2 separate regions of the Homo sapiens genome follow, and region 1 is linked to region 2. A link means that fine-mapping ties the variant in region 2 to the expression of a gene that starts in the linked region. Tissue or cell type: whole blood. Region 2 holds a variant in brackets; the other region holds the start of a gene. All regions are shown on one strand. Distances are from middle to middle.

The links. PIP is the estimated chance that this variant, and not a neighbour inherited with it, causes the effect.
Region 1: DAPP1 starts here. The variant in region 2 is fine-mapped to the expression of DAPP1 in whole blood (TOPMed, PIP above 0.99).

Annotation. Positions count from the first base shown.
Region 1 is chr4:99,813,915-99,819,242 of GRCh38, forward strand. DAPP1 (dual adaptor of phosphotyrosine and 3-phosphoinositides 1) reads left to right here and starts at 2,913. Exons shown (of 9, transcript NM_014395.3): 1 at 2,913-3,100. The coding sequence starts at 3,000.
Region 2 is chr4:100,013,215-100,019,034 of GRCh38, forward strand. The region is part of intron 1 of H2AZ1-DT (H2AZ1 divergent transcript); the gene reads left to right. Among named protein-coding and RNA genes, the nearest start is that of H2AZ1-DT, 66 kb to the left of the region's middle. The variant G/A (reference allele first, on the strand shown) is at 2,889.

The sequences.
Region 1 (5,328 bases), 200 kb before region 2:
GGGAACCCCTGAAAGTAACATTTGGAGAGTGAGCCTTCCAAGAGACCACAATAGAAACTGCAAGGCTTCTTCTGACCTAGCCTCAGAAGTGATCCAGTGTCACTTCCACCACATTTTATTGGTCACAAGTGAATCACAGAGGCCAGGCCAGATTCAAAGGAGGGGAGTTAGGTGCTGCCTCTTGACAGGGAGCAGCAAGGTCACATTGCAGAAGAGCATGTGGGTTGGGAGATGTATGTGTGTATGTATGTATGTATGTATGTATGTATCTATCTATCTATCTATCTATCTATCTATTTATCTATCATCTATCTACTATCTATCCATCAAGAGAATTTGCCACAAGTAAGCAAATATTCTATATAATTTCAGGTAGAGCTAAAAACAGAAGTGGTATTTAGACTGTTACAGATACAAAGGATCTTCTGGGGTGATAAAAACCATTCTAAAATTGTATTGCAATGATGGTTGCACGACTCTGCAAATTTACTCAAAATTATTGTACACCTAAGGAAAATGAACATTATGATATACAAATTGTACCTCAATATACCTGTTAAATATACAACTAGCATGCCACAGGCACTGAAGGATAAGAACAGACATGATGCTGGCCTTGGTTCCAAAACAAGGTTTTTTGTTTTTTGTTTTTTGTTTTTTTTGAGACGAAGTCTCACTCTGCTGCCCAGGCTGGAATGTAGTGGCATGATCTCAGCTCACTGCAAGCTCTGCCTTCCGGGTTCACGCCATTCTCCTGTCTCAGCTTCCTGAGTGGCTGGGATTACAGGCGTCCACCACCATGCCCGGCTAATTTTTTGAATTTTTAGTAGAGACAGGGTTTCACTGTATTAGCCAGGATGGTCTCGATCTCCTGACCTGGTGATCCACCCGCCTCGGCCTCCCAAAGTGCTGGGGTTATAGGCATGAGCCACCACGCCCGGCCCAGAACAAGATTCTAAATCCCCTTTCAGTTACACAGCAATAGATGTCCCGGGAGGGATGGGCTCCAGCATTTTGTTGAAACTATCTAGCAAGCCTCCTGCAGCTGTTACCACTGCAAAACTAAGTGTGTAGTTAGTGGAGTGGGCGGGGTGGTAGGGATACTGTGAAAAATTGAGTAAATGACAAAGTGGGACAATGACATCAAAGGAGAGGGCAACAGACAGGACAGCAACATGAGGAAGGGCAAAAGGCAGGAAGATTCAGCCAGAAAAGCAGGACGATCTTAGAAAATTCTGCTACTTGTACTTCCAAAAAAGTTAAGAAAAAGAACAACCAGAATTTGCTAAAAATGGGAATGAAATAGATACTAAAACACCAAATAAAGGGCTCTAGAGAGGGAACAGGAACTCTAGTGCCCAGGCTGTTCCCCTGTCACTGCTGTATGCATATTCAGTATCTCCCTGGCCTGCACTGGCCTCTCTGTTCAAGTGGGCCCTGTCCTTCTCTGTGAGCAAACTGTAGCCAAAAGAATTTAAGTGCTCATTTAGTCAGTTATATATGTATTATCAGAGCTTAGTCTTCAGCAGACTGCCTCCAGACACTCAGGAACTTCCCACTGGCAACCAGTGTTACCCGGGTCTCACCGATCCCGGGTGAACAGTGGTAATAGGGAGGAAGATGAAGGATAGAACCATTGCACAGCAGCCTTTTGCAATCATCTAGTCCTTTAGGAACAGTTCTGCTGTGCTGTTTAGTCCTCAGGCCACACTGTGAGAACAAGTTACAGAGCACTGTGGTGAGTGCTGAATGAGTCAGGGAGTAGAGATAGGAAGAGAGAGAGAGAAAGGGAGAGGGAGAGAGAGACCTGTAGGTACATAGAAAAGGCAGGAAGCAACATATGTCCTTGACTCATTTGATACTGCACTTTGTTCCACTTCCCAAGGATTCAGTCACTGCAATTTACCTTTAGCATTCCAGGCAGATAGAATCCTGCTCTACATATGAATCTGGGCACAAAGCCATGCAGGTGTGAGTAAGCCCATGAAGGAAGTGGCACTCAAAGACTCTAGGAGTTCAGGCCAGGTGCAGTGGCTCATGCCTATAAGCCCAGCACTTTGGGAGGCCGAGGTGAGTGTATCACCTGAGGGTGAAACCCTGTCTCTATAAAAACACAAAAATTAGCAGAGCATGATGACGGGTGCCTGTAATACCAGCTACTTGGGAGGCTGAGGCAGAAGAATCACTTGAACCCTGGGAGGTGGAGGTTGCAGTGATCTCAGGTCATGCCATTACACTCCAGACTGAGTGACAGAGCGAGACTGTCTCAAAAAAAAAAAAAAAAAAAGACTCCAGGAGTTCTAATATGCCCCATTAGGTGGGCACCAGAATGGCCCCTTGTAACTTTTTCCTACCTTCTCCTCTCCTAATTCTTTTTCTGTGGAGGAAACAATAATTGTCTCTGAATCATCCCTATTCGGAGCATTGAGGATATATTAGAAGGTCTGGGTAAACAAGCAGAAATATTGCAAAAGTGCTAAAACATCAAACTTCAGGGTCGAATTTGTGGTTTGCTTCTGCTTTTTCTATCCACTCTAAAGGTGTTCCTGATAGAGAAGCTTCCTCAGTGTTCCCTGTGTTGGTGTGTAAGACAGAAAGAAGATGGGGTAAAAGAGTGCACGCATCCTCCACTACAAACCAGAGGCTGATAGCATTAGGGAGAAGCTAGGGTTTGGCCTCACACAAGCAGTTTGCACTGTTGTCCAATCCCAGGTGGGGTGGTTGCCTCTTCATTTCCTTTGATAGCAACCGCCTGTTGCGTGATGTAGTGTGGGTGTCCTCAGAGGTAGCTACCTAAGTTTGCATACTTCCTGACTGACAGAACACTCCTGCCAGTGCCTCCAGGCCAGGGTGGTGGTGTTGGTGGGAGGAGTAAGTAACCAAGTTTCACTTCCTTGCCTTGGAGACTCAGAGCCATAGCAGGCTGCTGTCTCACAGAGCGAGAAGGTGTCAGGAGCAGCCCAGTTGTGTCTCTCTCTCTACCTCTGTGAAGGGCGCGAATGGGCAGAGCAGAACTTCTAGAAGGGAAGATGAGCACCCAGGATCCCTCAGATCTGTGGAGCAGATCCGATGGAGAGGCTGAGCTGCTCCAGGACTTGGGGTAAGGCAGCAGATCTCCTTTCAAAGTACCTAGTGGGTGGACATTGACTCCGCACTCCCACCTGCATGCTTTGATTAATGACTATCTTCAGTGCCTTGTTGCCCTCTGCCACCTCAACCATTTATTTTTTTCCACTTTATTCATTTGTATCTGTTAAGTATCTTCTTGTCTGGGGCTAATTCCATTGGAAAAGCAGGCATTATTTTTCTAGATGTGAAAACAAGTTGGTTGAGAAAATAGGGAAAAAAATCAAATGTTGGACATTCTTTGAGAAGAGGGACAGAATTGGGATATAGAGGTGATGTTGCCTGGCTTCCTTGATGTTGCTCTGGTTTATGAATAAATGCGCTGTTCAAGAGTTTCTAGCACTGACCCAGGGACAGTAAAAGGACTGTGTTTCTGGTAAGATAAACAGAAAGCTTACCCTACTGTAAGGGAGAGGGACTTTTTCAAAAGACAGAGAATGAGGAAGTTCCTGCAACAGTCTCGCTTGTATATTTCTTTCTCCTGATACTGCATTTGTGAGATTTGATATCGTATGTATGTCCAGAGAGCCAACTTTGAGCCTTTCAGTACCAACAATCCAGGAAGAGGATAAAATTTCTGCTTCAAACAGGTAAGCATAGGTAGGTGGAGTCATTGGAGCTCTGTCTTTAAGAAGGGACCCAGATGACAACTCATCCGGGTATTTAATAAGAAACAAGTATTACACAAGAGAGGAATTGGGGATTTCCCAGAGAAACTGCCTAATGCACTGGGAATATCCCAATGAAGGTGGCTTTGACACCTGTGCATGAGGAGAGGCAAAACCTTTACCTTCTGCCTGGACAAATAGCTCTAACTCTTCATAGCAATCCAATGACATAGGAGCTGTTGTCATCTTCATCTTACAAAGGATGAAAACAAGTACCAAACAGGTTTGAATAACTTGCTTGCTAGTCACACATCAATTACATAGCAAAGCTGGGCATCCAACCTACCACAGGCTATGTCCGAAACCAAAGAAAAACCAAAATAGAGTTGAAATCTCTCTGTGTTAAGGCTGCAGAGATTGTATCTTTTTATGTTGTATTACTGTAAAAGTTTATTAATAATTCCTGTCTTTAGATTATAAAACTGAGGTCTCGGAATTGAACTCTACTTTCATTTGGCAAATCAGATAAAACACCTGGAATTTTCATTAAAGAAAACTCCCCTTATTAGGAAGCCAGAGCTCTAGAATCTCTCTATCCCTCTAGATTGAATCCCCAAACAGAAGAGGTAAAAGGCCCTTCTGTGAGCATCCAGCACAGGTGTCACCAAGTCCAAAAGCTAAAGCTGAACTGTGGCCCTCAGTGTCTTATTGAACTATTAAGTTACAATGCTTTACATGTTCTGTTAACTGTATTCCCAGCCCACTGTAATAGAAAACCCCAAAGGAGGAGATAGAGGAATATATTCAATTCTGGTCCTTTAGTTAAACAAACAATCCTAGAACCCAGAGTCTATGGTTGAGTACTGTGGGAACACACTTAGATGACAAAGATGAATTAGATGCTGTCTCTGTGCCCCACCATGATGTCAACAGCAAGAAGCAACTACAGGTGAAACCCACGGGTGGAATAGGACTGTGTCTTTCCTCCATGTGCAAAGAATAGACATTGAATACAAAACTGAGTCACACCACTTCCCTGCAAAAAAAAAAGGGTACATTCATGGCCAGATTTCCCTATTTCAGAAGGCGTGAACAATTAATAAACATGAGGATGATTTCTATAGCAATGGGCAACCTGCAGTTATCTGGGAAAACTGCTCTACAGTCCTGGTTCTTGACCTTGGCTGTGCTCTGGAACATCTTGACACCCAAACCACAGACTTGACAAATGATTTCAGTATCTCTGGGGATGGGTGTTTTCTTGTCAAACTCTCCAAGTAATTCCAAAGTGAGACCCTAGGTTGATGATCACTGCATAGAATATGTATCTACCAAATGCATTAGGTAAATGTGGTCTTGTTTTTCATTTTAAGTCTGTTGGGTGTGTACTTGAATCTTAAAATTACTAATAAATGTTGATATTTTGTTTGTTGGTTTAGGGGCATTTCGATTAGCAACTTTATTGAGGTTATTTTACATATCATAAAATATACCCGTTTCAAGTGTACAATTCAATACTTTTGACTAACTTTACAGAGTGATACAACCATCACCATAAATCAGTTTTAGGACATTTCTGTTCTCCCAAAAAGAA
Region 2 (5,820 bases):
TAGAGATAATCAGTAAATTCATTAAATTGAGTTCAAATTCTGCTCCACTCAAACTTATTCCGTTTATTCATTCAAACATTAAAAGAACTACAGTGTATGAAGCAGTTAGCTGGGTAGTAGGTACACAAAAATAAATGAAAATAAACAAAATGTCTTTTTCTTTGTGGAAATTATAAAATGTGAATGTATGTGTATGGGGATAGATGGGCAGGGGAGTATCATTGTTACTGCAATGGGGGTGAGTACACATGTTGTTACTGAAGAAAAGGAAGCTCATCTAACCCTGGCTTGGGGACAATTCATTCACACTGTCTGTGGTCTATAGAATGGGTTGGAGGGCTCAGGACAGTCTTGGAGACGAACTAAAACACCAATGAATAATTCAGGTGAGATGGTAGTGGTCTGAATTAGGTCTGTGACAAGAAGGAGAAAAGTGAATTTTGAGACACTAGGAGTTTAATTAGATAGGACTTGAATTTCATTGAATTAGAGGAAGTGAAAGTGAGTTCTAAGGCAGAAGATAGTGAATTTAATTTTGGAAAAGTTTAATTTTATGTGGGATGTGCAAGTGGGGATTTGAATCAGAAGCTCAGAAGGGACAGAAGCCCTGGAAATAGATTCTTGGGTGTCACTCACATATGGTACTGTCTGGAGCCATGTGAATTGAGAGCACAGGAGGAAAGTGTGTCAACTCAACAAGGTCAGAGAAAGTTTGATGAAGAAACCTAAGGGAACATGGAGATTTAGAGGCTAGAAAGAGAAGAATATCCCACATATGTCAAGAGAAGAGAGGGTTAAAGAAATGAATACTTGGCATGATCAAATGCTACCATACATTCATATAAGGCTTTATGATATGTGTGATTTTGCATATATTTTCTTACTTAATCCCTGTAATGGCTTTATGGTTCATCTATCTCACTTTTCCACTTTTTTCTAAAAGTGTTTAGATAAGAAAACGGAGGCCCAGGAACACAGCAATTTGTTCAAGATTACAAAAGTTGGCTGGGTGTGGTGGCTTAGCCTGTAATCCTAGCACTTTGGGAGGCTGAGGCAGGCGGATCATGAGGTCAGGAGATCAAGACCATCCTGGCTAACATGGTGAAACCCTGTCTCTACTACAAATACAAAAAACAATTAGCTGGACATGATGGCACATACCTGTAGTCCCAGCAACTTGGGAGGCTGAGGCAGGAGAATTGCTCGAACCCGGGAGGCAGAGGTTGCAGTGAGTCGAGATTGTACTACTGCACTCCAGCCTGGGTGACAGAGCGGGACTCTGTCTAAAAAAAAAAAGATTACAAAAGTTGTGAAAAGCAAACTCGGGTGTTGAACAGATTTCTGGAGTTTCTCAGGTGCAGAGTGGTGAGTCCAGACTGCAAAGTGGCGCAGTTAATGTGAGCCCTCACTGTGTGCAGGCACTGTGCTGAGTGCTTTGTGCACATTATCTCATTTAATTTTCAAATCTTATACTATAAACTTGTTAACATTATAATCCCCATTTAAGGAATGAGGTAGAGGAAGCTCAGAGGTTAAGCAACCTGCCCAAAGTCATAAAACCAGTAAATGGTAGAAGCAGAGGAATTCACGTCCATTTGCTGTATGACACACGTATTAACAATTCCATCATTACGTATGAATTTCTTTCATCCAAAGACTTCCCTGATTTTTTTTTTTTTTGCCTACTAATGCTTCTGGGCTGCATAAAGATAAAAATCTCAATAAATAATAGTTATTTTGAAAGGCCTACAATGTGGTGAGGTGCTCAACTAAATAATTTATTTGTAGTCTATTCACTCTTTACAAACCTGAATGGGAAAGTATTTTTACCCCCATTTTACAGATGAGAAAACTGACCCCCAGAGATTAAATAACAATACACATTGTACGCATGTTTCAAAATATCACTTGTACCCTTAAAAATTTTTTTAGAATCACATGGGTCCTATAAATATGTACAAATATTACATATCAAAATGTTTTTAATTAAAAAAAATAAGGACAGAGTAGGCATTCTAGCTCAAATCCTTTTCCTTTTCTTCTTCTCTTCTTTCTTCCTTCCTTTCCTCCCTTAGCCAACCCTCCTTCCCCATCTCCTCTATCCTTCTCTTTCATTTGGCCTACTGCTTCTTAGGTGACAATAAGAGTGAATTTAGAATGAGGCCTTTAGGAATGGGATATAGGTCAAGGCACTGGGATTCAGAGGAGACAAGGGGTAAGCACTTTGCTAGTGTAATTGTAATGTTTGGAACTCAGTTAAAATGTTCACCAGACTCTCTGGTGCCCTGATATACCCACATAGGGGCTTGTGTGATTGAGAACTAAGGTTTTTAGACATTTAGTTTGAAATATAATTAACTGTGTATATCAAAGTTTGTAATTTGAGACTAATAATTGAGAATAAAATTGATGGATAATTAAGTAAAATAAAATATATCTTAGACATAAAGAATAAGATACCTTAGTGGTCATTCATAATTTGTTTCATTTTTATATAAAAATTATTTGCTTCCCATACACAAAACCTGAGTGCTCATCTACTTGATGATTTATGACACAGAACTGGAGTTACTTATGTCAAAGCTCTGCTTTGTTTTTTTTTCTTCTTTTGAGATGGAGTTTTGCTCTTGTTGCCCAGGTTGGAGTGCAGTAGTATGATCTCGGCTTACTGCAACCTCTGCCTCCTGAGTTCAAGTCATTCTCCTGCCTCAGCCTCCCAAGTAGCTGGGATTACAGGCGCTTACCACCATGCCTGGCTAATTCTTTTATTTTTAGTAGAGATGGGGTTTCACCATGTTGGTTAGGCTGGTCTCAAACTCCTGACCTTAGTGATCCACCTGCCGCGGCCTCCCGAAGTGCTGGGATTACAGGTGTGAGCCACTGCACCC[G/A]GCCCGAAGCTCTACTTAGAAGGACAGCAGTGCTCTATGTTCAAGACAGAGCTTTTCTCTGTGCCTCAAAAACCAGTTGAAAAAGAGCATTGCAATATTATGTGTTAACTGTTCTGTAGACCAAAAATGTTGGTTATATTGATGGCAAAACCTGAAAGAAATCCACAACGCAGAATTAGGTAGATACTGCCCCCTCTCCCTTGGAACTTTATACATTCCGCATTTTTACTAAAATGCTTATGATGCTGTTTCACGATTTGTTTATATCTCTGCTCTGCAACTTTGAAATGCTTGAAAGCAAGGTTTAGGTCATATGTTTATCTTTGTAACCACAGAGTTTAGCACAAATTATGTCCTCAAGTTTACAGATTTAACTAACCATAGTCAGGGACTCAAATATTGTGTAGCCAGGCATATGTTCTAAACCAGAAATTGTCCCAGTGTTTTCCTCACTTCACTTAGGATCACATATGGTGTTTTTTTTTTTTTTTTTAATACAGAGTCTCGCTCTTGTCACCTAGGGTGGAGTGCAGTGGCACGATAATGGCTCACTGCAGCCTCAACCTTCTAGGCTCAAGTGATCCTCCTACCTCAGCCTCCTGAGTAGCTAGGACTACAGGCATGCACCATTACTAGATAATTTTTATATTTTTTGTAGAGACAGGATCTTGCTATGTTGCCCAGACTAGTCTCCAGCTTCTGGGCTCAAGTGATCCTGCTGCCTCAGCCTCTCAAAGTGCTGGAATTACAGGTGTGAGCCACCACACCTACCCACTTAGCATCCTGTACAAATTTTACTGTTAAAGAATTTTATGTTTTAATAGACTTCTACCAAGCAAACTACAATTTTAAAAATAATCTCTGGCTTCTGTTCATTGTTGATACATACATATACAATACTGGTTGAAAAATTCCAACCAAGAATGAAGAAATGTGATGTTTTGGTTAGCCTTGGTAATGCTATTGTGGTTAACTAGTATTCTTATTTAACCATGTGAACTACTAAAGTATCATTCAACTTCATTTTTTAACTGTATCATTTATTTTAAAGATTTATCCCTATTGATATAGCTAAACTTAAGCCCATTCTTCCTTAAAAACATGCATTAGAATGTCAAACCTCTAATACAGGTTTAGTGGTTACACCTGGGAAGAGAGGAGGGCAGAGATGAGGGTAGATATGTTTCTATTTCTGTAATGCTTTATTTCTTTAAGAAAAAATCTGAAGCAAATATGGCAAAATATAAACCTGTTAAATGTGGCTGGTGGGTACATATCTATCTAATTCATTTTCTGTATGTTTGAAAATTTCATACTTTAAAAAGTGAAACAGCTGATTTCAAATGCCTCTTTTAAACAAGCACCCATGTAAAATGGCATTAATACATTTACTTATTTTTAAAAAGTTAAAAAAAATTCTAAGATTGAAAACATTTGCCCTTAACTTTAGAAAAACTTTAAAAGCATCAGAGTAAATATAGAATTCTAATTATAGACAATAGAAAAAGACAGATCAAGAGAGATTTGAAGCTCTCAAAAATTGAAATTTTGATATTTAAAGTTAAGATTTCATTAAAGCCTATGCATCCTAAATTACCACCTGTACTTAGACAACTCAATGTTTAGTATAGACATTTGTAAATTCCAGACACTCACACCCAACAGTCTGCTTTACAGTTTTTCTCTGAGCCCCATATGATCCAAACGAAAGTCATGGGCCCCTGCACTGTCTTTAATGTAATACACATAAACCTAGTTCTCTTATTCCAGTGACTGGAGTCATGCAAGTCAGAAACCCAGGGAAGTTTCTTAATTGCCACGCCTTACAATGTTAATATTACTTCATCACATGGGTTTTTTTTTTACAGCAGTCTTTTAAAGATTATGTCTATTTTATGAAGATTATTTCAGTTAAACTAGCACTATATTCATAAAGCTACTTAACCTGGCATACATAAACAGAGGCACAGTCAATATGTGAAAGTCAACACTGTGGAACGCTCATCCTTTCCTTACATTACCTCAGCTACCCTAAATGAGTCATGACACCTGTCATACTGACTAAGTGAATCCCTAGGATAAATATTAATGAAGCTTAAGTTTTTAATATGTGTTTGTACAAGTTTGAACACTTTGTCCTTGCTGTCCAGTGGAACATCTTGTATACTCCATATTGGAGACTGCAACTCTATACTGTGGTCAGAATATTTTTGAAACTCAAAATGATTATGTTTCTCTTTCCTCCCTATCCTTCATATATTAACCTTCCAGAGACTTCCTATTTGCTCTAAATATGAAGACCAAAATCTTTAGCATGGCGTTTGGTCAAGTCTTTTCACAATTTGTCCTCTATCTCCCTCTTCAGCCTCACCTTACCAAAAGCTAACCCTTGCTCTTTGATACAAAGATATGAAGAAATGCACCTCCCTATGGTTTGATCGTAGCACTTATTTCAGTTGTAATTTTACTTGCATATTTTATTGTTTGTTTAGTATCTACCTCCTATACCACAAGCTATGTAAGTTATTTTAAGAAGTAAACAATCAAAATGAGAAAGAAGATAAAGCAATTTCTCAAAAGATTGATATTTTCACAAGACATCGGCCAATGAACCTAGATAAAAGATCATGTGTAAAAACACCAAAGGGTCAAACGATGGGAAAATATAAAAAATAATATTTATTGTTTATAAGAAGAAAATAGAGGCTTTAAAAAATATCTTATTTCCACTTTTTTTTAGGCTTTTTAAAATTAGAAAAAATAATAAAAAATGGCCATAACTTTATTTTGGAGAAAGGCTCAGACCCACCACTTTGAGCTGATGGTATAAAATTATAGATGACAGTGACAAAACTATTCAATGTTTATTTCTTTATCAGTATTGCCATTTAGATATGCTGATTATGAAATATTGCCTAGCTGTTCTTTATAG